Homo sapiens: one gene and its partners. The protein of the gene in region 1 interacts with the protein of each later gene in a pairwise test. Each region holds a gene or a part of one and is shown on either strand. Other genes may lie near its edges.

Evidence for each region.
Region 2: the proteins of GUCD1 (region 1) and CTH interact in binary tests that used the Homo sapiens proteins (3 or more experiments, as listed by UniProt).
Region 3: the proteins of GUCD1 (region 1) and FHL3 interact in binary tests that used the Homo sapiens proteins (3 or more experiments, as listed by UniProt).
Region 4: the proteins of GUCD1 (region 1) and TSPAN4 interact in binary tests that used the Homo sapiens proteins (3 or more experiments, as listed by UniProt).
Region 5: the proteins of GUCD1 (region 1) and NDUFAF6 interact in binary tests that used the Homo sapiens proteins (3 or more experiments, as listed by UniProt).
Region 6: the proteins of GUCD1 (region 1) and PTH1R interact in binary tests that used the Homo sapiens proteins (3 or more experiments, as listed by UniProt).
Region 7: the proteins of GUCD1 (region 1) and PSMA1 interact in binary tests that used the Homo sapiens proteins (3 or more experiments, as listed by UniProt).

Annotation. Positions count from the first base shown.
Region 1 is NC_000022.11:24,539,938-24,542,538, reverse strand, and holds the end of GUCD1 (protein GUCD1), read left to right. Parts: 3' UTR 1-2,101; downstream 2,102-2,601.
Region 2 is NC_000001.11:70,437,810-70,440,351, reverse strand, and holds the end of CTH (cystathionine gamma-lyase), read right to left. Parts: intron 1,665-2,542; coding exon 1,526-1,664; intron 1,252-1,525; coding exon 1,225-1,251; 3' UTR 501-1,224; downstream 1-500. UniProt on the Homo sapiens protein: Catalyzes the last step in the trans-sulfuration pathway from L-methionine to L-cysteine in a pyridoxal-5'-phosphate (PLP)-dependent manner, which consists on cleaving the L,L-cystathionine molecule into L-cysteine, ammonia and 2-oxobutanoate.
Region 3 is NC_000001.11:37,999,393-38,002,514, reverse strand, and holds part of FHL3 (four and a half LIM domains protein 3), read left to right. Parts: intron 1-3,082; 5' UTR 3,083-3,102; coding exon 3,103-3,122. UniProt on the Homo sapiens protein: Recruited by SOX15 to FOXK1 promoters where it acts as a transcriptional coactivator of FOXK1.
Region 4 is NC_000011.10:849,352-852,851, forward strand, and holds part of TSPAN4 (tetraspanin-4), read left to right. Parts: intron 1-504; exon of another isoform or gene 505-677; coding exon of another isoform or gene 678-953; coding exon 954-1,016; intron 1,017-3,500. UniProt on the Homo sapiens protein: Structural component of specialized membrane microdomains known as tetraspanin-enriched microdomains (TERMs), which act as platforms for receptor clustering and signaling.
Region 5 is NC_000008.11:95,027,989-95,031,488, forward strand, and holds part of NDUFAF6 (NADH dehydrogenase (ubiquinone) complex I, assembly factor 6 isoform 1 precursor), read left to right. Parts: intron 1-3,500. UniProt on the Homo sapiens protein: Involved in the assembly of mitochondrial NADH:ubiquinone oxidoreductase complex (complex I) at early stages. May play a role in the biogenesis of complex I subunit MT-ND1.
Region 6 is NC_000003.12:46,901,721-46,904,299, reverse strand, and holds the end of PTH1R (parathyroid hormone/parathyroid hormone-related peptide receptor precursor), read right to left. Parts: intron 2,535-2,579; coding exon 2,440-2,534; intron 1,775-2,439; coding exon 1,633-1,774; intron 1,552-1,632; coding exon 1,510-1,551; intron 1,031-1,509; coding exon 644-1,030; 3' UTR 501-643; downstream 1-500.
Region 7 is NC_000011.10:14,507,382-14,510,386, reverse strand, and holds part of PSMA1 (proteasome subunit alpha type-1), read left to right. Parts: intron 1-2,620; coding exon 2,621-2,731; intron 2,732-3,005. UniProt on the Homo sapiens protein: Component of the 20S core proteasome complex involved in the proteolytic degradation of most intracellular proteins. This complex plays numerous essential roles within the cell by associating with different regulatory particles.

The DNA of each region.
Region 1 (2,601 bases):
CTGGAAGTGCTGCATATGCCCCTGTGCCCAGTGGTTGATGATACCACCACCACCTGCCTACCCATGGGCCCAAGTTTCTGTGGCTCATTACAGGGCATCTGACCCCTGCCACCCAGCATAGACACACCTCACAGCTGCCCTGCCATGCAGAGCCCTGGCCGCTGGAGACTCTTAAAGCCCCCACAGCCCTCCAGGTCCTCCAGCTCTGTCAGATGGAGGGCTCTCGGGCCTAGATCCCACTGGTAGGCCTCGTGGCTGGCAGCAGTGCTCTGGGAATAAACAGCTGCCCTAGCCCCAGAGGGATCCCTGCACCCAGGAGGCCTCCTGACACCAGCCAAAATCCTGACAGCAGGGTCTGCCCTCTTGAGTGTGGGGAGCCCCTAGTCCTTTAAGGTTGGCTGCTAAGGCCTGTGCTCCAAAGCAACGGGCTGGGGCAGCCTGCAGCTGCCCACCCAACCTGGTCTTCACACCAGATTGCACAGGATACTGGGTCTTGTCTATCTTGATGGAGAAGAGGGGTTCCTGCCCAGGATCTTACAACACAGCAAGTAGCATAGAGCTCTTTCCTTCCTCTTTTTTGGGGAGGTTGGGGTCAGGGGTTGTTTCTTTGAGATTTAAGTTTTCATTTTTGAGGGGTAATCACCTTCAAGTAAAACAGTAATAGCAAGAGTGAAGGTACTTTGGAACCACTAACACCTCTGCACAGGGCAGTTAGCCAGCTCAAGTTCTTTTTCAGAGAAAGGGACTTGGCCAGTGGTTTAAGTACCTGCCCCTTCACCTCTCAGACGAGGCAGCTGACGAGGCAGCTGGCCCAGTCTTGGGAGTCTGCTCAGGACAGTGGTGGAGCTGGGTCTTGAACCCCAGTCTGCACCTAAAAAACTAAAGGAAATGGATTTTTTTTTTTTTTTTTGAGACGGAGACTCACTCTGTTGCCCAGACTGGAGTGCAGTGGCACGATCTTGGCTTACTACAACCTCCGCCTCCTGGGTTCAAGCGATCCTCCTGCCTCAGCCCCCCACTAGCTGGGACTACAGGCACATGCCACCATGCCCGGCTAATTTTTTTGTATTTTTAGTAGAGACCAGGCTTCGCCATGTTGGCCAGGCTGGTCTCGAACCCCTGAGCTCAGGTGATCCACCTGCCTCGGCCTCCCAAAGTGGGAAATGGGTCATTTTCAAAGGGGCAACAGTGATACCATCCCTGCACTCCTGGGTCCTGCTCTTCCAATGCCCAAGGCATGGCATGGTGGCAGCTGTGCCCCCGCCCATTGCTTTGGAGCACAGATGACTCTGGGGGCAGAGGTGGGCTCTGTTTAGGAGGGCAGTGAGACCACCCAGCCAAATTGCTTCTCAACCCTAGACAAAGCCTTTGGCCAAGAGGGAGGTGCTGTTAGTTGGGCAGCCCTTCTGGGTTTCAGAGACCGGTGTTGGCTCTAGACTGGTCTCATCTCCATTGCCTTAATGCCAGGTGGCCCAGGAGTACCCATGCACAGCAGCTGTGGGGTGTGGGCATCTTCAGGTGGTGTTCTGGTAAAATTGTTAGAATAGCTGTATGAAGGAAACCAGTGGGAGGAAATGAAGTTTTCAGGATGGTGGGATGTGATTTAGACAGTGCACATGCTGTTAGGGCTGTCACTAGGGAGTGGCCTTCATGGAGGGTGGTAACAGCACCTCAGTCCAGCCAAAATGTTTAGAAACACTCAGTCTCTGGTCCCAGAGGATGGCTTCTCAGGGCATGCCACAAGTTAAAGGTCACCTTCCTGAAAGATGAATGAGAAAGCTGCCCATTCTCAAGACTCATCTGCCTAGGGAGGGTCACAGAGGCAGGATGTAAGACACACTGTGTTGCATTCTTGCACAAGTCATGAAAATGGAGCCAGAGAGCCTGGACATCAGGGACTTTTGCCCACAGCACATGACACCGACAGCTGCCCAGCCTGTTCACATGCTGGGGACCAGCACAGCACCTGAAGCCATGTGGGACAGTTGGGCTTTGTTCATTCTAGCCACGGGGATGAAAGGGATCTTTTGCATTGCAGAGATTTTATATATATTTTGTTTGTAATGAGCCATTCTCAATAAACATTATTCTCACTGCAAAATGGTGGTAGCCCCTGGCTGGCCTTTATGAAGCTGTGTTGATCTGCAGAATTCCTGTCCCTTCTCAAGTTCTCAGCATGAGCACATGGGAACCCAGGTCCTTGTCTTGCCATACCCAGTTTAGCTGGGACTGGAATCCTGTTTTCTGTTTTCTAGGGCCATATCCATCCCGTTCAGGCCTGGATGCTTGTGCCTGTCCTGGACAGGCAGTACTAGAGGTAGAAGGGCCTCGGGGCTCAGCTCAAGTGAACTGCAACAAATGCAACTACAGGAGACACAACAGAATGAGGGAGATGTTGAAGCAGGAGAGACGAAAGTGGGTGGGATGGTGAGTGCTGGGTGGAGCTGGCTGCTCAGAGCATGCAGAGTTGGGGTTGAGGTAGACAGACCAAGAGTGCAGTAGTGCGATCTCGGCTCACTCCAACCTCCACCTCCTGGGTTGAAGCAATTCTCCTGCCTCAGTCTCCTGAGTAGCTGGGATTACAGGCACACACGACCACGC
Region 2 (2,542 bases), on another chromosome or scaffold:
GCCAGTGCAGTCTGGAACTCCTAGGCTCAAGGAGATCCTCCACCTCAGCTGTCCAAGTAGCTAGGACTACAAGGACGTACCACCAGGCCCAAAAGATTCTATTTTTAAACATACCTTCTTTTATTCTCAACAAATGCACTATTTCAGATAAAAATATAAAAAGTACTATTTATCTGTAAAACGGTGGCCTTTAACCTACCTTGGATAGGATTTATAACTAATCTGCAAACACTAAGATTTGGGAATAATATTTATTTAATTGAATTTATAAAAATTAACATAAAAGGCTAAGACCTCTAAGAGCAGTAGTTGGGAATTAAAAGGACCCAGGAATATAGGTTAATGTCACATAATGTAGGAATATCACAATGGGATGCATTTGATAATTAGATTTTTTTTTTTTTTGAGACGGAGTCTCGCTCTGTCACCCAGGCTGGAGTGCAGTGGCACGATCTCGGCTCACTGCAAGCTCCTCCTCCTGGTTTCACGCCATTCTCCTGCCTCAGCCTCCCAAGTAGCTGGGACTACAGGCACCCGCCACCACGTCCGTCTAATTTTTTTTGCATTTTTAGTAGAGATGGGGGTTTCACTGCGCTAGCCAGGATGGTCTCAATCTCCTGACCTCGTGATCCGCCCGCCTTATCCTCCAAAAGTGCTGGCATTACATGCGTGAGCCACCGCGCCCAGCTGATTTATTTTTTTAAAAATATTAAGTATAGTCTTAAATCAGTAGAATTTCACAGTAAACTTTTCAAGTATTTGATTTTCGGCTTATGGTAACTAAGTGTAAACCATTGCTTTTAATGTTCTTTTCAATGATATGCAAAAAAATCACACTTGATTTAAGAACATTCGTTTAAATTTAAATTCTTCACAAAACATCAAAAATGAATTACCATTATATTATAAACATGATCAAAATAAATCTTAGACATGAAAAAAGAACATAATCTCCCAAAGTAGCACAAATCTCACCTCCTTCAGAGGCAAACATAGAGCAAAATTAACAAAAAGATATTAACAGAATTGACCTGTAATTATAACATGACATACAGAAAACTTTTTAACAGAGATGATCCCTAAGAAAATTACAGTTATGAAAGATAATGAGGTGCCTTAAAATTTCCGCTTGAAAATTTTGCAAAGGCTCATTGTTGGTCCATTTAATTACTCAGGAAGATTTGATCTTCACAGGAAGCAGCTTCTAATAGCAGCTCTGGAATACTAGCTGTGACTTCCACTTGGAGGGTGCTATAATAACAGTGCACAAGAAAAATATGTTATTAAACATATAGGCCATAGCTTCAACTCCTCAAGAAGTCCTTTTTCTGAATACTACCATCCTTTAAATATGCACTTTGACTGAGCTCCCTATACGTTTATTTATACACCTGGTCTATTACAGGAACAGAAAAGCTTTAGAGTTCACAGTGAGACCACACTTTGTAAATATAGTGACCCCCCATGCCCAAGATAAAGCAGACACACACACACACACACACACACACACAATAATAAGACTTACTGCTGCCTTCAAAGCTTGATCTAGATCTTCCAGTAGGTCTTCCTCATCCTCTAAGCCCACAGAAAGTCGAATCAGTGTGTCACTAATTCCAAGGACATCTCTGTCATTCTTAAGAACTGATGCATGAGTCATGATTGCCCTGAAAGAAGACATGAGCAAATTTTTGATCACTATATTGTGTCAGTGGAGGCATGTTTCTGTCTCATAAACTGCAATTACCCTCAACATTTTTCTGGTCCAAATATCAAATTTTGCATACCCCTATAATTCACAGGCAAAAAAAGAGAAAATTACGAAACTTATCTCTTCTAGCTATGATTTTAAATGAAAAGCAAGATTGTTTTTATCCTGTTTATACCATTGGTAAGATATGCTCAATCCAAATACTGAAAGTGTGTGTCAAGTACCCCCATGCAGTAGGGTAAGGCATAGCCTCCCCAATGTGTATATTTTAATACCTGCCTAAATGAAGTTTGGCCAGAAATCATGTACTCCATGACCAACCTACTGGATTGCTACTTATAAGAGGTCTCTTGGACCAAGAGCCTGTCATAATTAGTTTCCTCTGAATCAATCCAGAGCTAGACCTTCTGAGGCACATCGGAGAAAGATGACCAAGAATCACTAGTAGCAACCAGTAAGCATTCAGAATTCCACAATATAACTCCTGGCATAGAGGCCTGGAAGGATTTTTCAAACGATCTAGCAGCCCATTACCATCATCAACAGATGTAAAGGAAAACCACCCATAATATGTCAAGCACTGCAGTAAAAATTGGGAAACCAAGAAGAATGAGATATTTTCTTTAACCTAAATAACAAAGCAGGAGGTAAAAGCGATGACAATTCACAAAACAAAATAGTCTATATAAACAATGCCAAACAAGTATAGACAAAAAGACTGCCAAGTTCCAGGGAAGGAGAAATTTCTGTGAAGAATAATGGAGGAGAGGTTTAGCATCTTACTTAACCCCAGTATGTGTATTACAACCAACACTCTTCCTTTCCCTGCACACC
Region 3 (3,122 bases), on another chromosome or scaffold:
TGCCTGTAATCCCAGCACTTTGGGAACCCAAGGCAAGAGGATAGCTTGAGCCCAGGAGTTTGAGACCAGCCTGCGCAGCATATTGAGACCCCATCTCTATTTAAAAATTCTAGTCCAGGCAGGGTGTGGTGGTTCATGCCTGTAATCCCAGCACTTTGGGAGGCTGAGGCAGGGAGATCATGAGGTCAGGAGTTCGAGACCATCCTGACTAACACAGTGAAACCCCGTCTCTACTAAAAATACAAAAAATTAGCCGGGCGTGGTAGCAGGTGCCTGTAGTCCCAGCTACTCGGGAGGCTGAGGGAGGAGAATCACTTGAACCCGGGAGGTGGAGGTTGCAGTGAGCCGAGATTGCGCCACTGTACCCCAGCCTGGGCGACAGAGCGAGACTCTGTCTCAAAAAAAAAAAAAAAATTCCAGTCCAGCTGCTTGACCCAGACCTGCCTGTGAAACTGCTATCTGGCCCCAGTATGAGTGAGGGCGCTAATAGTAAAATACTAATAGCTACCATTTTCTGAGTATTTATTATCTGCCAGGTGCTTTACAAGTATCATCACATTTAAGCCTGACAACAAACTTAGGAGGTAGGAAGTGGTAGTATCTCATTTAATTAGATGGGAAAACAGGCTTAGGGATTTGCCCAAGATCACTCAGCCAGTAAGTGCAGGAGCCAGGATTCAAACCTTACAGCTTGAGCTGCTCCATACACCATAGCCAGTTACGCAGTCATTCTGAGCTCCAGGAGGTTCACTGGGAGGTGCCTTGTGAGGGGAGATTGTTGGAGGTGCAGGGTTGTGAGCCATCTGTAGAGGAGCAGTCTCCCCCAAACCCCGCCCCACTGCCGGTCAGGAAGGAATACAAGGCTGGCTCCCTTCAGTCCCCGCAGTCCCCAGCCTTGCCAGGGAAAAGGGCAGGGAGAGGGGTATGGGCAGAGACAGGTGGGCCTTGTTGGTGCCCTTTACTCTGTCCTCACCAGAGCCCAGCTGGATAGACTAGGGCATTGGGGGATTCTGGGAAGGAAATAGAAGCCATGCCCATACCCTATTTGGGTTGCCCTGGTTTCGGAGTGCTGACTGTCTCTCAGGGGGTGGACCCAAGTCTAGCCTGGGCCTGAGAAGGTGGCAGCCGCAGTGGGCCAAGCCAAGAAGGAAGGAAGAGGCCCAGGCACCCCCTGTGGACGCATTCCACCTGTGTGGCCCCCTGCTGCCCCGTGGCTGACAGCCCAGGCAATCCTCAGATGTTGGGCCAGAGGAAACCTGGGCCTGAGTGGCAGGAAGGGGGCTGAGAAAGAGGAGTATCTTCTCTACACCATAGCCCCCAGCCCAGGAGTTCCAGCTCTAAAGACCCTGGCCCCTGGTGGCCTCATGCCCTGGCCTGGAGCGCAAGCTGGCTGTTCTCCCATTGCGCAGAGGCTTGATGTATGGAGAGTCAGGCCTCCAAGCTGGGGGCATCTGCTGGTGCCTGGAGTCTGAACTTCAAGCCAGAGCAGCGCTTGTTGTCAAGAATTTCGCACTGGGGGTGGATGAGAAAAGGAGGACTTCTCCTTCAGCTTGAGCCAGGGCAGGCCCTGGCGACTGCCAGCACTGGAGCCTTGTGGGAGAGTGGGTTGGTGGATTCCTTTGTGTGTCCCTGTAACTTCCCCGGGCTCATCCACAGCTGTGAGAACATCTCCTTCCTATGGGTCCTGGTGGTTCCTCTCCACTACCCCAGGATCCCAGCCCTTAGAGAGCAGCCTTCATGATGGAGGAGAGCAGGGGTGGGAGCTCTGACTTTGGGGCTAGAGACTGGAATCCGGGGCAGCAGAAAGGTCTGGGAACCCCACTTCCCTACCGCTCCACTCCCTAGGCTCCTGTTCCAGAGGCAGCTGTGTGGATGACCTCATCCCACAAACATGCTTTGTTCCTGAGAAAATGGAAAGTGTCTGAGGTTTGGTCGGGGGCTGGGTGTCTCCAGCAGCAGCTCTCAGGGCTCCCCCTTGTCCTACTCCCCACCCAAGATGGGGCCTGATTGGGGAGAAAATGTCTTCAGTGGCTCTTGCTCTCTCTCCTTTCAGCTCCCTAGTCCCAAACCCTGAGAAATCGGAAAAGGTGGGAGAGACCTTCTCTCCCAGAGGCAGTAGGAGGGAAATCATGACCCCAGGGGATGGAAAGATCCTGGGGTTTTGCCAGATGTTAGCAGGAGGTGGCAGGGGGTACACTGCACTCCCAGTCTGTCTCCAGTTCCCCTCTGCCTCCCCCGACACTTCATTTTCCTTTTTTCTCCCCATTGCTGGCAAAACCTGACATCTGGCCATCTGTGCCGCCACAGCTGCTGCAGATGTTACAGGCCAAGGCTGTCCAAGCTGGTGTGACACAGCGGGGGTGGGGGGATGAGGGCAGAGGGTCTAGCTAGGGAAGACTGGCTGTGTCCAGCTTGCAGGATTTCCTTCCTGCTTGAACCTAAGCTGAGCCTCTGAAGTTCCCATTGCTTGGCTGATTCCCCGGGAGGGAAGGCCCAACCTCTCACACTGGCCTCTTCTACCATTCATTAGTCCAGCACCTCTCTAGCATTCCACTGTTTTCTGGATCAGGAGGGGCAGGCACAGCCCATTCCCGTCTCTAAGTTCTGTACTCCAGAGCTCTGGTTAAGGGTTCCTTTATCCATATTCCTAAAGTCCCTTCCTGGGAGTCAGGAGAGGGTGGGAGTACTGCTCATAAGGAGTAGAGTGGGGTGGCTCCCTGCCCCTGCTTCTCCCACGCTGGGGACAGTCGGGACAGTGGAGGCTAGACGCTGGCTGGGACAGGAAATGAGTCACTGACCCAGGAAAAGCCCCCTCCCCCTAGATCTGCTAGGGCCTAGATAAGAAAACAACTTCTGCTTCCTGGTTTTTTTCCTGACCTCTTCCTACCCCGAGTTAAATACAGAAAGAAACATGTGGGATTCCTGGTTTCCCAGAAGCACCCCTTCCCCATCCCCACCTACTCTGAACTGGCATTTCCTATGCCGGGTCTCTTGGCTGTGTTTTGAATGCAGAGGCCTCTTTGCCAGGAGCCAAGCCACAGCCTCTCTGTGTGACCCCAGTTCCACCTTGTGCTCCTAACAGGGTTCTCTCCCCTTGCCACCATGAGCGAGTCATTTGACTG
Region 4 (3,500 bases), on another chromosome or scaffold:
AGGGCTTCCCCAAGGGCGCCCGGGGCGGAGCCGCTTCAAGTTGCCACCAGACAGCAACGGGGTCACCCTCCATTTGCGTAGTGCTTTGAGTATCGTTCTCGTGGTTGGAGGTCTCCAAGCCCGGCCCGGGGCCAGAGTCCGGGCGAGGTACCGTGGGGGGAAGGGCTGGGGGTGTCGGTCGCGGGCTAAGAGCTGCCCAGGTTTCATCCCCAGGCCCCGGCCCCGGCCTCCAGTCCCCTCAGGCGCCCTTCGCGAGCATCTTCCTCCCGCGCGCGAAGGTGGGGGGGCTGGGGCGCCGGCGCGGGCGAAGGGGCCGGGGTCGCGGCTGGTGCGTTGCCGGGGGCTGCGATTGGTCCGCCCAGGCGGAGCGCTGGGGTTTGCCGGGCGGTGCGGCGAGGAGGGGAGGGGTCCGCGCGGGGGCGGAGCCGCCGGGGATTGGCCGGGAGGGCGCGGGGCGGGGCGCGCGGGGTCGGGGGCGCGGGGGCCGCAGCGCGCGGGCCGGGCAGATGTTTGGGTTCCGCCGCCGGGGTCCGAGCGGATCCGCGCGACCCGCTGCCACCGCGGGGGCCAGAGCGGGAGCAGGAGCGGGGCCGGAGCAGGCGCCGGCCGGCGGGATGGGGCGTTCCGGGGCGGCGGGTGCGGGGCGCTGAGCGGCGGCCCCGGCACACCCGGGCGCGATGCGCCGCTCCAGCACGGACGAGTCCACGTACCGGCGCAGCCCCTCTCCGGAGGGCAAGGAGCCGGACTTCGCGCGCGGCGGCCCCTTCCGGCGCTACAGCAGCCTATACGGGCGCGCGGGCGGCGGGGACGCCGGGGGCTCCTTCTTCGGCCTGCACGCGAACCCCGGCCCCAAGGCGGCCCAGGCGCGCTACACGTCGCCCAAGGGCAACAAGTACGTGGTTTTCTACCTGGACCTCTCCTTCATCTTCCTCCTAGAACTGAAGCGCTGCGGCATGGCGCGCGCCTGCCTCCAGGCCGTCAAGTACCTCATGTTCGCCTTCAACCTGCTCTTCTGGGTGAGTCCGGGGGCCGGGGTGGGGGCCCGGGAAAGACCCGGGGTCCCTCCCGCGGCGGGTCGCGGGGTCTGGGGAGTCGGAGTCGCTGCCCCGGCCAGGCGTTGGGTGCGGTTGTGGGGATGGTCCCGGGAGGACCCAAGACCGCTGCTCCGGCTAGGAGCCTGGACTGGGCGGGTGGGGAAGGTTTGCACCATCGCGGGGTCCGCCCCCTGCACTCAGAGCGGCTGCCCCACGCCCTGGTCCCCTCTCCTCTCCTCTCCTCTCCTCACTTGATGAGACGGGACACGTTGCACACGTGCGCGCCGGACAGGGCCACCCGGGCACTGCGCCTCTCCTAGGGTCGGGGTTCGAGTCCGGGTCGTGGCCAGTTTTGCGCGGGGCCCCGGTGCCTCCTCTGCGCCCGCTCCCTCCTCGGTGCAGCCGTTATCCTTGCCTCGGCCCCGCCCCTCCAGGCAGGCGACCTGTCGGGCCCAGGGACTCACTTCCGAGGGTTTGAGCCGGCTGCCGCCAAGGTCCCCCAGTCGCCGGGAGGCGCTGCGGAAGGGAATCCTGGACACTGAGCAGGGCCGTGGGCCATCAGTGTTCGCGGGAGACACTGGCTTTCCCGCGCCTCCGGCAGCAGAGGCTTCCCTAACTTTTGCGGAGGTGGGGTCAGGTGTGCTCAGACCTGCAGTGGTGTCCGGGGGGGCCCTGTGTGCTGGATGGAGCAGAGCTGAGGTAGAGGGCGGACAGGGTTCCACCCCACCCCAGCCCCATGTCAGCAAGAGGTGGGGCAGGATTCCCACCTGGCCAGGTTGGAGCAAGCCTCATGGAGCCGCGACCCTGTCCTGTCCCTGGCTCCTGTGGAGGGCAGCTGCAGTTGGGGGTGGCCGAGGATGACCTGGACCGGGCCTGGGGCTTTGCTGGCTGGGCTGGGGGAGGTGAAGTGATACCAAGGTCATTCTGTGCCCTATTCTTAATTCCTGAACCAGCTCCTGCAGCTGGGAGTCGGGGGTGTGGCCTCAGCTCCTGCCTAGGCTCTGGGCTTCAGAAGGAGGCTGTCCATCTGCATAAGGTCCAGCTGGGCCAAGTGCCCAGAAGCCTGGGTCTGCCTTCCCACCTCTCCCCTCCTGAGCCCAGGCTCCTTCTCTAGCCAGCTTGGGGTGGAGGCAGGGGGGTCCCTGGGAGGGACAGCCAGCCTGGGTTGCCTGCTGAGTGTGACCCAAGGAGGCTCTTGGCCCAGACATCCACCTCCAGAAGGGGTCACCCAAGGGTTTGTTTTCTGCAAGAGGCTCTGGAGGGGTGAGGCCCAGGCCTGAGGGGCGCCTTGGAGGTAGGGGTGGTGGGAGGTGTGGGTGTGGTCTGGAGCTGGTGGGTGTGGGGGGTGGGCTGCAGGTGGCTGAGTGACCAGAGTGTTTCTGTGACGGGGGGACGGGGCAGAATGACTGAAGGGCAGTGGGTGTGGGGGCCCGGCAGGCAGGCAGGCAGGTCCTGGGAGGGGAAGCCCTCTCTCCTCTCCACCCTCCTCCTGTCCTCCGTGGCCTGGACACCTGCCTTCAGGGAGAAAGAAGAGGGTCCTTTCCCAGGGGGGGTCTCTCTGCTCTGAGAGCAGCCCGCCCTCATGGAGGACCCCCAGGTGGACCTCTCTTTGCTCTGTGAACCCCAGAGAAGCCTCCATTCCTACCGCATGGCAGACACACTCCCCCATCCTCAACCTGGGAAAGAACACACAAGGAACCCCCTTGGGACCCTATTCTGGGCTGGAAAATGCAATTCTCTCTTTTTTATCTTTGTTTTTTGAGATAGAGTCTTGCTCTGTCGCCTGGAGTGCAGTGGCGTGATCTTGGCTCACTGCAACCTTCCATCTCTGGGGTTCAAGCGATTCTCATGCCTCAGCTTCCCGAATTGCTGGGATTACAGGCGCGCATCACCACGCCTGTCTAATTTTTGTATTTTTAGTAGAGACAGGGTTTCACCATGTTGGTCAGGTTGGTCTCGAACTCCTGACCTCGTGATCCGCCTGCCTCGACCTCCCAAAGTGCTGGGATTACAGGCGGCCCCAATTATTTTTTATTAATCAATCACCACCTTCCCGCCAGTCCAGCAAACTGGAGCCCCGCTGGCTTCATACACCAGCCTTGGCCCCCCCCAACCCTGGGCTGGTGCCCAGTGGGGGTCTAAGGGTGGGGGCGGGGCAGGGGAAATAAGAATGAGTGGGGGTTTTGCCAGGAGAGTCTGTCCCGGGCTGATGTCCACGCCTGCTGTGCCCTGAGTCACTGTGAGCTAAGCCCTCTCCTCCTGGCGTGAGGCTATTTCAGGAGTCAGGCCTAGCGCTCCCCTTCCCCAGGGCTCCTTTCCTTTTGGGGGTGCCAGCCCCCTGTTGTCGGGGCTTTTGCCGCCCACTCCATTTCCTACTCGTTGGGAGACCAGGGGATACAACCTGGCCTCCTCCTCCTCCTCCTCCGTCTTCTCAGGGGCGAAGTTCAGGGGTTAAGGTGGTGGGAG
Region 5 (3,500 bases), on another chromosome or scaffold:
TCAGGCTGTAGTGAGAAGGTGAGGAGGTACTACTGGTGGTGTTGGAGTGCACTAATGTTCTTTACTTTGCTGCAATCTCACCAGGGAATCACTTCCTTTGTGCCTCAGTGGCACAGGTCCATGGTACTAACACACAACAATCCTAATACCCCGTGTGCTTGTTTCTTATATGTCTGTCTCTCTCAACTCAATCGAAGTCAGTACCCATCTTCAGTGTCTGGAACAGTGCCTGGCACATAGTAGGCACTGCATAGATGTTAGAATGAATGAGAGGTTATTTGCCCTATTGCCATATAAAGCTGTTATATATACATCCGTAATATGGCATTTCTCATTATCTGGGACTGGATAATCTCAGGTAACTGGATCTTGGTTAGATGCTTAGGACATTCTTGTATATCCATAGTTCAATAATTCACATTTATAACGATGATCCTAAGTGATGAAGAAATGGCTAAATAATCAGTATATCATGTTTAATGTGGTGAAGGGGGTAATATTGTTTAGAAAAATTTCCATCCAAAATTTAAAAATATATTTAATACGGCAGATCCTTGGCTGTGTGGAAGACTTTATTTTCCAAATGTTACTACAGTTCTATTATGTCTTCATTTCATTTTTCATTTCCCTCTAAGAAGCTTGAAGTACTTCACATACTGCTTTTTTTTAGAAGATAACCTTGGTAGGTTATTAAGCTTCATTTGCAAATTGGGAAATAGACAGGAGTGATTGGTGTCATTTCTATTAATAACCAGTTCGGTGATGGAAGTTAAGATTGTAGTTTGATTCCCATTCAGTGTTTTTCTCACTGTTTCATGTTAACTTCAAGTGTTTTAAACACTTCTGAAGTTTGGAGACTTTTTATGGCAAAATACAATTTAAAAAATGTCAACTATAGAGCTGCTTTGCCTTCGCTGTCCTTAGAAACTTTTGGGGAACCATTTTGTTCCCCAAAGGTGAAACTGCTTAGGGTGAGATCTTTTTAGCAGTACTCTTGAGATAGCAAGGTTACTGTTTGTGACCTCTTCTTTTGGTTTATGTGGCAATTGGAGGAGACTGTCAAGGGAATGGCTAGAAGCAGTTTAAGTTCTCTGTTAGGAACATGACAAAGTGTGAACCAGTTGAAAAGTGGGAGAAATCTGAATTTTAGTACCTAAACTCTATGGGATGAGGCCCAGGTTAGACTCATATTAAATATTGTTTTATAAGAAGGTTCCAATGTATTAAAGTAGGTAAGTACCTTATACTTAAGTCATCTTTCCTGGAGTGAATATGGTAAGGTCTATATGTTCATAACATTTTATTTTCAAGTAATTGTAAATTTACATAAAAATTACAGAAATAGTACACAGAGAGCCAATATACTCTTTAGCAGATTCCCTCATTTTTTAACACTCTGAAACATTTAAGGATAAGATGCAGACATGATACTTCATTAACTGCCCTTAATACTTTGGTCTGTATATTGTAAGTACAAGGACGCTTTCCCGTAGAATCACAGTACAGCCATCAAAATCAGGAAATTAAAATTGATCCAGTATTACCATTTAATCCACAGGCCCCATTCAAATTTTGCTGATTATCTTATTATGTCTTTCATACATCCAAAATCATGTGCTACATGTAGTTATATCTCTCTAGTCTTCTCCAATCTGGAACAATTCCTCACATCTTATCTTTCATGAGCTTGATATTTTTTGAAGAGAATAGGCCAGTTACTTTGTAGAAATCTCCTTTGATTTGGGTTTTTAATATTTTCTCTTGACATGCATTTTTGGCAGGAATATCACAGAAGGGACACTCAGCTTTTCTCTCCATATCATATCAGGCAGCACATGACATTGATTTGTCCTATTATTATGATGTTAACCTCTTACTACGTGGTTGAAAAGGTGACTTCCAGATTTTTTTTTTGTAAATTTAATTAAGAATGTTAATTATAAGCAAGAAGTGCATACTTACTTCGTGGGGAGATACTTCAGTACTATGTAAGTATTCTTTTTCCATCAAACTTTTACCCCTTTAACATTTTCAGGCATTTATTGATGATTTTTATCTGAATCAGTTAATACTATGATAGTTATCAAATGGTGATTTTTAAAAATTCCATCATGTCTTCTAAATTTAGTAGTAGGCATTGTATTGGTTGTCAAGCTTTTCCTTCTCTTCCTATTTATTAATTTTTATTGGTACAAGCTCATAGAGTCCTGTTTCAAATTGTTACTATTATTTATTTATTTATTTATTTATTTATTTTAGAGACAGGATCTCCTGTTACCCAGACTAGAGTGCAGTGGCATGATCATAGCTCACTGTAACCTTGAACTCCTGGGCTCAAGTAATCCTCCCACCTCAGCTTCCTAAGTAGCTAGGACCACAGGCCCATGCCACCATGCCCAGCTAATTTTTTTATTTTTTAAGTTTTTTGTAAAGACAGTGTCTCACTGTGTTGTCCAGGCTGGTCTTGAACTCCTGACCTCAAGCCATCCTCCCTGCTCTGCCTCCCACAGTGCTAGATTATAGGCATGAGCCACCATGCTGGGCCCTGTCATTATTTTTTGATCCTGAAATTGCTGTGGACTTGGCCAGTGAGAACTCTGTCAAGCCAGTTTCTGTGTTCTTTTGAGAAGTTTCCTCCATCCTTTAAACATTTCTTTACTTTTTGCTCAAGAAAATGTTTCAGACTTATCTTGTATTTTCCCTGCCCTAGGAATGGAGTCAGTTATTCCTTCCAGGAGCCTGTGTTAGTCTGTTTTGCATTGTTATAAAGGAATATCTGAGACTTGGTAATTTGTAAAGAAAAGAGGTTTCTTTGACTCATGGTTCTGCAGGCTGTGCAAGAAGCATGGCACCAGTATCTGCTCAGCTTCTGGCAAGGCCTCAGGAAGCTTTTACTTGTGGCAGAAGACGAAGGGGAGCAGGTGTATCACATGGCAAGAGAGGAAGCAAAAGAGAGAAGGGAGGAGGTGCCAGGCTCTTTTAAGCAACCAGCTGTAGCGTGAACTAATACACTCACTTATCCCCAAGGGGATGGCACCAAACCATTCATGAGGGATCCACCCCTGTGACCCAAATACCTCCCACTAGGCCCCACCTCCAACATTGTGGGGGTCACATTTCAACATGAGATTTGGAGGAGACAAATATCCAGATATCAGAGCCCTAGTTTCTTTCAGTGGAGAATGGTTTCAGAAACCAAGATCTGGGTGCTAGGTGTGTTCACCAATACCGGGAATGTGGGGTGGGGGCTGGGGGCATTATTACTTCTAGGCTCTTTCAGCAGGTGCTGCAAGGAAACGTATGTGTGCACACAGTCCTACATGAATTTCTATGTCTTATCTCTGCCTTTCTGTATATCTGTCTATATGTCTTAAAAACCATACATTCACCCCAATATTTGCTTGAACTATTTTAACTTGATTTATTCTTTTGAAGCTCATTTGAATTCTTACTAAAACAAAAGTGATTCTGAAACAGTTAAAATTATAAGTACTACATAA
Region 6 (2,579 bases), on another chromosome or scaffold:
GTCACAGAGGCATGTCAGGTCACGGGTGGATGCTAAGGCTCCTGCGTGGAGGGCTCCCTGAGTGGCCACTGGACAGCCAGGAAAGGTCCATTCTGTGGCAGGGCCGTAGGCTTGGGGGTGTGGCCAGGGACCCGAGGGATCTGCCAGCAGCCCTGGGTGGCAGTGATGGGGGCAGCAGTCAGAAGAGTTGGCCCAGAGGAGCCTGGGTCCCCCATGGGGTCTAGGTACAAGTGTGGAGAGCAGCTCCACAGCTGGCAGCAACGGAGGCTGAGGCTGGATTTCCACATGGGTCCACTTGGCTGCTGTGTGACCCCTGCAGACTTGAGCCACTCTGGGCCCTTTCTGCTGGATACCACAGGCCCCAGATCCCTCCCCATTCTGAAGTGAGACCTGAGGATTCCTCCATGACTCATGGCCCTCCCGCCACAGCTTTCCCTGGCTCCCAGCCCCACCCTCTCGGAGTGAGTCCCCAGTTTGGGCCACAGGAAGCCACACACCGCTTCCTTTTCCTTTTTCTTTTTTTTTTCTTTTTTTCCCTGTTTTTCCTCTTGGCCCCAGCCCTGAGTGGGAAATCATTCAACCACCCATCTTTTGGTCCATCTGTCCATCCACTATGTCAGCAGGTCCAGCCCCCAGCGCCTGGTCACATGACTGTCTCCCACTCTTCCTGTAGCAGGGCAGGTGGCCGCTCAGGCCCAGAGGCCTCCTCGTCCAGGCCTGAGCAGGAGCCGTTGAGGAACCCATCGTCCTTGGGAGCAGCCATGGCAGGTGGTGTGGTCTCGAGGGTCTCCAGGGCTGGGGTCCCTGGCTTGGCATGGCCAGGCAGCTGAGGGTGGCCGTTGGTGGTGGCAGTGGGCAGTAGGCGGGGGCTGAGGGGCAGGCCGAGTCCCACACGGGGGCCGACATTGGTCACACTTGTGTGGGACACCATGGGGCCGTAGCTATAGCTGCTGCTCCCGCTGCGTGCCTTTCGCTTGAAGTCCAGTGCCAGTGTCCAGCGGCTCCAAGATTTCTTGATCTCAGCTTGTACCTTGGGGCAGTAAGGGTGCGGCAGTCAGGTGTGTCTCCCAACCCCAGCGATGCCCCATCCCGGCCCCTGGACACCCAGCACGGAATGAAAATGGGAATAGGGGACTCCTGGGAAACTCCAAGGCCAAGTGAAATCCCATCCTCACAACAGGGTGTTTGGCTACAGGCAGCCGACACACCCAGAATCTACAAGGCTCAAATTGCCCCAAAGGTGGCTGAGTCCTCCAATCTGGGTCACAGATAATTGAACCATGGGGCTGGGAAGACACTTGGCTATGCCAGTGACTGAAGAGTCCCCACATCCTAGCACATCCTGAACCTGCATCATCTGGAAAGACTTCTCTGCTTTCAGAATGTCCTCAGGGGTGTTCTTGGAGGAACAAAGAAATAACAGGGTGGAAGAATGGAGAAATGAGCCTTGAGGAAGCCTCTGGGGTATCTGCCCCACCCTGCCCTATGCCAACACTGTCTCCTGCTTACCTCGCCATTGCAGAAACAGTATATGATTGCGACAAAAAATCCCTGTGAAGAGGGGTGTCTCGAATCAGGCCTGCCCCCGGAACCCCTCCCACCCTCAGCCAGGCCCGGGCCAGCACTGCGCACCTGGAAGGAGTTGAAGAGCATCTCATAGTGCATCTGGACTTGCCAGAGCGTCCCTGAGACCTCGGTGTATGGTGTGGCCATGAAGACAATGTAGTGGACGCCAAAGAGGGGCATGAGCACCAGCGTGGATTTGAGCAGCTTCCTGGGCCAGCGGGGCAGGTAGGTCAGGGCCAAGCCACTTCCCCTTCAACAAGCATTGTGCCACCCCCCACCCTGCGAGCCCCAGGCTCCGGAAGCTCAAAGGGGCCCAGGGCTCCAGTCACCATGGGAGGACAACCCAGTTCACCTGCATGGCTGCTGTCCTGGCTAAGTGCTAATAGGGCCCGTTGGTTCTCAGCGGTGTCCCGGAGCGGACTTCAAATGACAGTCCCCCTGTCCCTGGGCCCTTCGCACCTGTGGAGCCCTCAGCTGGCAAGCACTCCCCTCCACGGTCGAACCTCACTATCCCACAGTCCGCTCCTCAGGTTTCAGCTGAGCTGCAGCCTTCCCGGGGCCACTCACCGCCTACCTGTTCCTCAGACCCCCTGCAACCAACTCTTTGAGGAGAGGTTCAAGTTCGTTGCACACTCACAGACTCCAGCTCTAGTGCAGGGCCTGGTACAAGTGGGCAGGCTGGCTTTGGGGTGCCCTAGGGCCTCCCATCACTGCTGGGCAGGCCAGGTGGGTGAGGACAGCCAGGGAGTCAGACGCTGGGTCCTTTCCCTTGCCCCAGGATCATTCATGGGGCCACTGTCTTTCCTGGGGTACATGGTACCAGGACTCAGGGACCCCTGAGGAGCCAGGGCATGGCAGGCATGGTGGGCTCACCGGTACTGCTGCCGTGTGTCACACCGGCCGGCGTTGGTCTCCCGCAGCTTGGTGGCGAGCACCCGGACGATATTGATGAAGAGGATGAAGTTGAGCTGTGGGAGTGAGGGGGCTGCGTCTGGAGGCTGCACCCTAGTGGG
Region 7 (3,005 bases), on another chromosome or scaffold:
TGTAGGTAGGTGTAATTTAAAATAGGTGGTTGAGGATATTCTCACCAAGAAAATGAAATTTGAGGAAAAGATATAAAGGAGGTAAGTGAGTATGAGCTATGCAGATCTAGAGCAAAATTATTCTAGGAAATACAAATGCAAAGGCCCTAGTATTTAAGGCAAGGAGGCCAGTAGTGTTGAGGTCAATCATCGAGAGGAAGAGGAAAAGGGAAGAAATCAGAGAGGTAATGGAGGTCCCATAAGCCATTGTGGTTACTCTGCATTTTACTCTGGGTGGGCTGTTAAGAGTTTGAGCAGAGGAATACCATGATTTGGTTTAGGTTTTAAAACAGTCACTCTGTTTGGCATTTTAACGACAGATTGAGGCTGGGCGCGGTGGCTCACGCCTGTAATCCCAGCACTTTGGGAGACCAAGGCAGGTGGATCACGAGGTCAGGAGATCAAGACTATCCTGGCTAACACGGTGAAACCCCATCTCTACTAAAAATACAAAAAATTAGCCGGGCTTGGTGGCAGGCGCCTGTAGTCCCAGCTACTCGGGAGGCTGAGGCAGGAGAATGGCGTGAACCTGGGAGGTGGAGCTTGCAGTGAGCTGAGATTGCGCCACTGCACTCCAGCCTGTCCAGCCTGGGCGACAGAGCGAGACTCCGTCTCAAAAAAAAAAAAAAAAAAACAACCGGTTTGTGGGCCAGCCGCAGTGGCTCACGCCTGTAATCCCAACACTTTGGGAGGCTGAGGTGAGTGGATCACTTGAGATCAGGAGTTCGAGACCAGCCTGGCCAACACGATGAAACCCTGTCTCTATTAAAAATACAAAAATCAGCCGGGCGTGGCGGTGCATGCACTCCAGCCTGGGTGACAAAGCAAAACTCCATCTCAAAAAAAAAAAAAACAGATTGTAGGGGTAGATAGATAGTGGGGCTATGGGTAGAAATAGTTTTAAGGCTATTCAGGTAATTATGTGAGAGATGATAGTGATTGCAGCAGAGTGACAGAGTTAAAGATGAAGAGTAGTGGTTCAATTTTGGATATCTTTTGAAATTACAGCCAAAAAAGTTTGCTAATAGATTTGTTATAGGGTGTGAGGGGGGAATGTCTCCAAGGTTTTGGGCCTAATTAATTGGAATGAAAGATTTATGATTTACTGAGGTGAAGAAGATAGTGGGAGGAACAGGTTTTAGAGTAGGCGTTGGGGAGGAAGGTCAGGCAGTCAGTTGCGGACATGTAAAATTTGAAATGCCTTTTTGTCTAATTGACGGTACAGAGTAAGCAGTTATAAGCAACACGTGGAGTTCCATGGAGAGTGGTCCAACCTACATTTCAAATTTTTGAAGTCTTTATATAGAAATGGCATTTAGAGTCTGGACTGGAAGAGATTCCTAAAGGAATTGAATAGTTAGACAAGCATTGTGAGGACTGGACCAAGAACACTAACCTTTAGCAACTGGGAGATGAGTTAGGTGTTGGCAAAAAAGACTGAGAGAGGTGGTCAAAGAAGTAGGAGGAAAACTTGGAAAATGAGGCATCTTTGGAGGCAAACGAATAAACTTTCAAGGAGGAGGGGCAATGAAGTTGTCACTGAGGACCTGACAAAACAGGCTTAATGGAATAATAAGGCAAAAACCTGATAGTGGAATCAGGAGAGAATGGGAGACGAGGAATTGCAGATAGCTTTTTGGAGGATATTTCTGTTGACGGTCACTCTGTCACTCTGCTCCAATCGCTATCATCTCTCACATGAATTACCTGAATAGCCTTAAAACTATTTCTACCCATAGCCCCACTATCTATTTACCCCTACAATCTGGGTTTTTTTTTTTTTTTTGAGATGGAGTGGTGACTGGAAGAGGAGAGAAATAAATTGTTTTGTTTTTTAAGATGGAAGAAATTACATCACATTTGCTGCATGATTGTGAGAGTAATCCAAGTAAATTTAGGGAAGCATTTATGAGGAAAAATAATGAGAAAATTGTTAGAACAATGTCCTTTAATAGTACATAGGTGGAAGGGTTGGCCTTAGGAAGTTTTAATGGGAAAGGAGAGAATCTAGGGACATAGGTACAGGAAAGAGTGGATACAGTGGGAACTTGTGAAAGTTCTCTTCTAATTGCTTCTGTTTTCGCAGTAATATAGGAACAAGGTTTTCAGCTTCAAAGAGCTTGGAGAATGTTAGAAGTGTCTAAAAGAAGGGGAGCATGAATGATGTAGAAATGGGTATAGTGGGATCCAGGAACCACTAAGGCCTACTTGAAGTTAATGATCATTAATAAAGTGAGATTAGTCAGTTTTATAAAGCCATTTTGTTATGGTGATTGGATAATTATTGTTTAATATCAATGTGAAGACTTTATAGCCTGCATTATCTTTTTAAAAAAATGTTTCTAGATAACATAGATCTTTGGAGTTACTCATGATAATCAAAAGTTAGTATTAATATTAAATCTGCAAATGACAAGGGTCCACTAGTTTCCTTCTTTTTTCTCCTACACATAAGTGGTTTTTAAGGTTTTATTCAAATGCTATATAAATTCTTATTCTGCTTTTTTCACCCAATATTTTATCGTATGTATTTTTTCATCCAAATTCTCTTATTTTACTTTTACCATATTTTACCCTTCAGAATGTTTCCATTGGAATTGTTGGTAAAGACTTGGAGTTTACAATCTATGATGATGATGATGTGTCTCCATTCCTGGAAGGTCTTGAAGAAAGACCACAGAGAAAGGCACAGGTATATAATCATAACACAAGAGGCTTTAGTTCTATTGTAAGCTGCTGTTCTTACCACAACTGTGTCTGTAAATTTTCCATTTTGTCTTAAATATTGAAATGGGCCCATAATTCAAATGGCAACAGGAAAATTAAGAACTGAGTAAAGTTAAATATTGAAAGGGCAGTGATCTCCATAAACACAAAAAGGGGGCCGGGTGCGGTGGCTCATGCCTGTAATCCCAGCACTTTGGGAGGCCGAGGCGGGTGAATCACGAGGTCAACAGATGGAGACC